Linked DNA regions of Homo sapiens. The protein of the gene in region 1 interacts with the protein of each later gene in a pairwise test. Each region holds a gene or a part of one and is shown on either strand. Other genes may lie near its edges.

The links. The genes of interacting proteins can lie anywhere in the genome.
Region 2: the proteins of DACH1 (region 1) and SOX3 come close enough for resonance energy transfer, tested with the Homo sapiens proteins (one large-scale study listed by BioGRID).

What each region holds. Positions count from the first base shown.
Region 1 is NC_000013.11:71,437,466-71,440,835, reverse strand, and holds the end of DACH1 (dachshund homolog 1), read left to right. Parts: intron 1-143; coding exon 144-181; 3' UTR 182-2,870; downstream 2,871-3,370. UniProt on the Homo sapiens protein: Transcription factor that is involved in regulation of organogenesis. Seems to be a regulator of SIX1, SIX6 and probably SIX5.
Region 2 is NC_000023.11:140,502,485-140,506,485, forward strand, and holds SOX3 (transcription factor SOX-3), read right to left. Parts: upstream 2,586-4,001; 5' UTR 2,577-2,585; coding exon 1,236-2,576; 3' UTR 501-1,235; downstream 1-500. UniProt on the Homo sapiens protein: Transcription factor required during the formation of the hypothalamo-pituitary axis. May function as a switch in neuronal development.

The DNA.
Region 1 (3,370 bases):
AGAAGATATGAAAAATGTTACTTCTTAACCAAGTAAAGATCTAATAAAAACTACAAATTTTATATCAAGTTACATCATTTTTACATGCACATTTGTACCCCAAATACCATGCCATTAATTAATTTTTCACTGTTCATTTCTAGATGGAAGACTGTATTTGAAAACTACTGTCATGTACTGAATCTTTCCTGTTGAAGAAATCCATGTTATAGAAAAGAACTTTGCAGTCAGACATTCGTCATGGGAAAGTTCAGAAAAAAATAAAGTCCTTTTAAGGGAACTTCCTGAATTTTGTGTATTAATGTTCTTTAAAAGTTTAAGTATTCTACAAAAAAAAAAAAAGTTTTCTCCATTGATTTTCACCTGTGGTTCATACCAGAGACCTGAGAATGTTTGTAAATGTACAAGTATCAAAGTTCTTACAGTTAATTACTGCAACTTGCTGCTGGACAATTGTATACAGAGTTAAAGGCAGGTCTGAATAAGACCTAGCTTTGTTTTTTTCTAATGGAATGAACCATTTTCCTCTTCTGAAAATTCTGTATCTGAGCACATCAAGAGACTCTTGTAGCAGTGGTTACCCAGACTTACAGAATTATGTCCTCCAGAAACCAGCAAGAACACTTGGAATGAACGAATGAACTTGTAGGGGGCATAGAGGATTCTTGAAAAAAAAAAATGCAAGAGTGATTTTCTGTTACATTCAATTTCAAACTCTCTAATTGTGGGTTTTCTCCTGAAGAATTTTTTTTCACATACTTTCCAAAAGACCAACAAATGGATGTTGACAACAACCCAATGAAATAACATTTTGCATATCTGAAAAGAAGCATTGAATATAAGCCAAAAGCTTTCACTGAAGGTTTTTTTTTCTTAAAAATAAAAAAAAATATATAAGTGTAACATGTTTTCATTCCAAACTGGTAGTGGTATGTAGAATTAAAGATAATAATGTTGCTTCTTATTCAAACTGTTGGTCATATGTACAGTATATAAACATAAAACACACAAGGAAGGTATTATGTATGCAGTAGTATACTAGAGTTTAGGAAAATGAAAATTTTAGAAAATATGTTTTGTCACCCTGTTGGTCAGAAAGATGTCTTTCTGGTTTTAACGCATGCAGGCATGTAAATATTTGTCTGGAGTCACAGTATTAATGAATGAGATCTTAAGCATCTGGTGACATCAGAACTCTGTGTCAGCCACTTTTATTTGTATATTGAACCCTAGCTAGTGCCCCAAGCTGCACTATTGGGAATGGATTGTGGCTGAACAGCAAATCAAAACACCAGAAATATTTTTATATGTTAACGTCATATTATGTTAATGTTGCTGAAAACAAAACCTAACAAACCTTGATGTACCAGTCCAATACCATGTAGCGCTGAGTGATAAAGTTAAAATGTGCTGTGCTTCCCACCCTTGTCAGAGGGAAGGGTGGCTATGTGTTATTTTCACTGTCTTTTTGAAAGTTACAGTATGTGTTTTCACTTTCGTGCAGATAACTGGAAGTAAAGCGGCAAACAGTGCTTATTACATGCTAAAGTTACCTTCTCTTTGTTTTTTGCATATCTGGAATTACACCTTTAAAGACTGATATGAATCAGTACGGTCACTATACATTTTATGATTTTTCTGTCATCTTAAAATTGTATGATCGTAACATTATTTATTACCACAAAACAGCAAAATCTTCAATGTCTAAGAAAACTAGCTTAAAATGTTTAAATATAGTTCTGATTGGGTATTAATTACTTGATTAAGAAAAAATTAACATTATAGATACTCTGGCATTACGCTTCTATACCTTTTAGGTCTTCCTTGCAATACTGGAACATAATTCTTTTGTGTAGCTCACTATTAGCCAGCTAAGTTCATCTTTTTAATACCATAAAAAGGTTATATGTACAGTTCCTATTTTAGCTTGCTTACAAAGGGAGCATTATTTTTATTTAAAGTATTGCTAGTAAATGATTTGTAGAAACTTGGTTTTCTAAGCATAGTTCTTCCATAACCACCTTTTGTTGTTTGAGCACAAGGGATTCTTTTCCTAGTTCTATGTGTTTGTTTCCCTATATGCAGTCTTTAAAGGATTACAACACTTAAAATTGAATGGACTTGTGTCAAGCTTTTTGCATCATACATTTTTTGAAAGATTTTTAAAAAAGCCTACAACTTACATATGTAGTAGAATCAGCCATTGCTCTGCTCCTGGCATAGAGTCACCTGTTTGTTATGTGGATTAAATAGTTTTAAAATACATATTTGAAGACCTTTGAGAATGCTTTAGTGTTTGATTTGAAATAAAAGGAAATTTTAGCAAGGATTAAAGAAAAAAGCTATCAGCTGTATGTTAAGAGAGACTCTTACTAACATGTTGTAAATATTACAATTCATGAAATGTTATTGTAAGTCTGTAACTTAATTTTTTCCCTGTTTTAGTTATACAGGTTGGTTTGGAAATTTGTGTTTTGGCATAAACAAGTAAAATGTGCCCATTTTATGGTTTCCATGCTTTTGTAATCCTAAAAATATTAATGTCTAGTTGTTCTATATTATAACCACATTTGCGCTCTATGCAAGCCCTTGGAACAGAACATACTCATCTTCATGTAGGACCTATGAAAATTGTCTATTTTTATCTATATATTTAAAGTTTTCTAAAAATGATAAAAGGTTATTACGAATTTTGTTGTACAAAATCTGTACAAAAATCTGTTTTTACATCATAATGCAAGAATTGGAAATTTTTCTATGGTAGCCTAGTTATTTGAGCCTGGTTTCAATGTGAGAACCACGTTTACTGTTATTGTATTTAATTTTCTTTTCCTTTTCAACAATCTCCTAATAAAACTGTCTGAAATCTCCCTGTGACTTTATTTACAGTTCATCTTTATTAAATTTTGTGAAATGCATAGCATTGAAGGAATATTTACTTTCTAATGGGAGGCATCTAAAAACAACACAAGTCAGCTCTTTGCAATGCAAGGGGAACAATGCTCAATGATTTTATTTAACATGCAACTGCTTCTATCTCTAATATGAATTACTGTGGTGAAAAACATCATAAAAGCACACTCTGTAGTTATTGTTTAACAAGCAGATTTTCCATATTTTGTTTCTTGCCAGCTAAGCAAACTGCCCACATATACATGATTTATTTATGTACATTTCTCAGTTTATGAAGCTGTTATTTGTACCTTTTTTCTTTATATTCTTATATTCCCATGATTCTTATTTCACAAAGCTTTGTGCTGAATAATGCAAAGTAGACATGTTGATGGAACAAAATATATTATTCCCATATCTATGAGTGGAGATTTGTAACTCTAACTCAGTGTTTTGCTTTTGATCTCTATCTTTGGAA
Region 2 (4,001 bases), on another chromosome or scaffold:
ATCCCTGTAACCATTTATTTTTAATAGGATCATCGAGATTTCCGAAGGGTTTTCGTTTTGTAAATATTTCAGCTAGGCTCAAATGTCTTCCCGCCCCAGTGCACAAAGGTAAAAGTGCCCCGTTTTTGGTCGGTTTCAGCGGCCGCGCCTTTCCAGCCCCGCCTCGCGTGGCTGCGGCAGCAGACACTTTCAGCAGACGCTCACTGCGATCAACAAGTGCGCGGCCGCGGGCTCTGCGCATTAGCTACTACTGTGTGCCCGCTCTCGGGAGACGCTCCTGGAAGACTCGGAACTCTGTTCCGAGTTTCAGTTGAGAATATTGGAAGCTGGTGTATGGTGGATCACCAGTAGTTAAAAGGAAACCATTTCAGATTATGCTTGCCTCCCCCCAGGTCCCACCCCGCCCCTAGGATGGGATCTCAGTTGTAAAACCGAGTGTTGGTTCCTCCCCAACCTGCAAAAAAGTTTCAGGGCCGCAAAATTATCAGGACTCCATCATGTTGGTTATAAAATTTATTGATCTCATTTAGGAATTAAGAGTAAAAGCTTGAAAACCCTGAAACAAAGTAGCCCCTCCCCACTACCCAAACGAAATCTGAACACATTAGCGCGAAGAAATATCAAACAGATCACGGCAGAAATCACCAACTCAACATGATTGGACAGAAGCTGTCCCGCGGCCAGGGGCGGCGAGGCGGGAGACACACGCACACCTGGCTATAAATTAACATTGGCTTTAGCTGCCGCGCTGCTTGGAGCGGTCAGCGCCCCAAAAAACCACGAGGAAAACAGACGCGACACGACTGGGGGCGTAGGCGTTGCAGTTCTCCAGCTGGCCTCACCCGATACTATGTTTCTCCCATTCACTCCTTGGCTAACTGCAAACTAACAAGACAACATTTTCAAATGTAACAGAATAACCCTGGAACTCAGGAGGAGGAGTGGGGGCTGTTTTTTCTTTGCAAATAACACAGCGATTCCCAGCCTACAAAGGTGAAAGGAGCAGCGGCGTGGGGCAAGAGAGCTCTCTAGAAGTCCCATTTTCGCTGCTCCTGACTTATTTTTGCTTTTGTACAAAACCCGACAGCTACAGCAAAACTTTCAGCCCTCCCCATCATCGGTACAAGGCAACAGTCCCAGGCAAGCAAAGCTAAACAAGGCGTCCCAACTTGGGGGTGCGGGGCGGGAGTGGGGGTGGGGGTGGGGAACAAGGGTGGACGAGCGCAGGCCGGTGCTCAGATGTGGGTCAGCGGCACCGTTCCGTTGACTGCAGTCCCGGCGCCCTGGTAGTGCTGGTGCACGCCGTGCAGGCGACCGCCGGGCAGCGGAGAGGCGGCGTCGGCCGCGTCCCCGCCGGGTGGCAGGTACATGCTGATCATGTCGCGCAGGTCGCCGAGGCACGCGCGCTGAGAGTGCGATGCGATGGCGGGCGGCGGCGAGCTGGGCTCAGACTTCACTACCGAGCCCATGGGGCCCAGGCTCATGGCGGCTGCGGCCGCAGCTGCGGCCGCGGCGGTGGCGGGCTGCTGCCCGTAGGCGGCGGCCGCGGCTGCTGTGGCTGAGGGCGCCATGCCCCCGTAGCCCGAGGCGGCGGCGGCCGCGGCAGCGACGTTCATGTAGCTCTGAGCGCCGGGCGGCATCATTGGGCTGTACTGCAGGCCGGCCATGTCGTAGCGGTGCATCGGCGGCAGCGCGGGCGGCGGCGGCGGGCTGCTCATGCTCGGGGGCTGCGCGTAGCCCAGCTGCTCCTGCACCAGCGAGTACGCGCCGTTGGCCCAGCCGTTCACGTGCGTGTACGTGTCCAGGCGCTGGCCCACGCCCACCGGACTGCTGGCGGCAGCGGCTGCGGCCGCGGCAGCGGCGGCGGCGGCCGCGGCACCGGGAGGCAGGAGGCCGCTGGGCAGGGAGTACTTATCTTTCTTGAGCAGCGTCTTGGTCTTGCGGCGCGGTCGGTACTTGTAGTCCGGATACTCCTTCATGTGCACGGCGCGAAGTCGCTTGGCCTCGTCGATGAATGGTCGCTTCTCGGCGTCGGTCAGCAGTTTCCAGTCGGCGCCCAAGCGCTTGCTGATCTCAGAATTGTGCATCTTGGGGTTCTCCAGGGCCATTTTGCGCCGCTGCCCGCGGGACCATACCATGAAGGCGTTCATGGGCCGTTTCACACGGTCCTGGTCTGTACCCCCGCCACCTCCGCTCGCACCACCGCTGCTGCCGCCGCCCGAGTTCGCGCCGCCGGCTGCGTTCGCACTACTCTTGCCTGCGCCTCCCGGGGCTGCGGGGCCGCCGGTGCCCGCCGCTTGTGTGGGTGTCCCTACGGGGTTCTTGAGTTCAGTCTCCAGAAGGCTGTACATTGCCGGGGCGGGAAGAAGGTGCGCCAGCGTGGCGGGAGGAGAAGGCGCTCCCGGGGCTGGAGCGGCCACGGTGAAAAGGCCCTGGGACTCCGTCGGAGCGGAGCTTGGGGGCCTGTGGGCCAGCGAGTCCGGCGGGAAGGGTAGGCTTATCAAAATGCTCCGCGCCAAATCAGCAGGAACCCGCGGGCTTCTCGCACCTGATGAGTTCTCTCGAACAGGTCGCATTCACAGTCTGCCTGGGCTCTAGCTGGGCCCCTTATATACCTGCTCGGATTCCCCGGGGTTGGGGCTTGGTCCGCCCCTCGCAACCCGGAGGACCCGTGATTGACAGGTTCGCAGTGATGCGCCCTGGCCAATCATTACCGAGCCCCCGTTCGGCCTGGCTGGAAAAAAAAAAGTTCGGGGAGCCCTTTCGTTCACCCCACGCCCCTCTTTGGCCTAGTGACGTGGTAAGAGTTACTTAGGAGGCGGGAGTCCACGAGGCCCACTCAGAGGCCACCAATTAGGGTTTCAAAAAGTTTGAAAGAACGAAACCTGAGGAGGTGACGGGGGGAGGGGGGAGGGGGCACGCAAGCAGATTGGGGGGAGGGGGCAGAGGGGCGCCTTCGGAATTTAGAAAACAACTTTGCAACCCTGTCAAGGCAGACCGGCGCCCCATCCCCCGGCCAGCCCGCAAAGCTTCCCGTTGTCTGCACGGAGGTTTTCTGGCCGCTTCTGCTGCCAGCGCTAGGAACGCAGGGCACCACCAGCTACCCAGGCCGGCTTAGGGACTCCAGGCTCATTGGAAGTGCTCCTGGCTGCGTCTCCAAGAAGCTCTCCCTGGAATTGGCCGCTGGTTGTCCAGATCTTTCTCTAGGAGGGCCAGTGCGTCCAGGACGCAGCGTGGGTCAGGGGCCCGGGCATGGGAGACAGGCTTCAGGACTGCGGGGTGCATTCGGCTGTGAGGCTCTTGGGGGTTTGCAGGAGGGCGGGCAAGCAGTCAGTCGCCCGTCTCCTGAGCCTGTCGGAGGCGCTCGCACAAGGTGGTGTGGAAAGTATGTGTGGGACGTAGGGGGTGAACTGGCCTCCGCTCTCTCGATCCTGGCCCCCGCTTAGCGGCCCCTTTTTGTCTCTGCTCTGTGGCCATTTCGGTTTTTCCAGTCCGATGCCCCTGAGGGGGAGGGTCGGGCCCCTTGGAAAATCCGTTTTCATGGCAACACGGAGCCTCTCAGAGTGAAAGAAAAGTTTCTTGGAGGGGGGAACGTTGGCCGGAGCGGAGCCGAGGCCGTCCTCCGGGCGAACCGCCGGGCCCCCTCCACTGCCCCCGCACCTGCCGGGACCGCTGAGCGCTACTCTGGGCGCGCAGCCTCGCCGCCTCCCCCGGGAGCAGGCTCTGCTAACGGATTCCGTCCGTCTCTTTTATTGTTTTAGAGACTTCCTGAGATTCGGAGCGGGACATTCACTTGCTTGTTGGGTTATCTGCCAAAGACTAGCGGCGCGGGAACTCTGGCTGCGGGGAGAGGAAACCCCGATAATCGCCACTGCCAGCTGAAGCGAGTGGCACAGCGTTTGAAACTCTCGGAGCAGCCCGAGGTAGCGAGTGGGAATGAGAAGCCATCCCGGCAGATTTGGCAGAAACTAAAATAAGGTGTCCATACGGTGTGGGGTCTC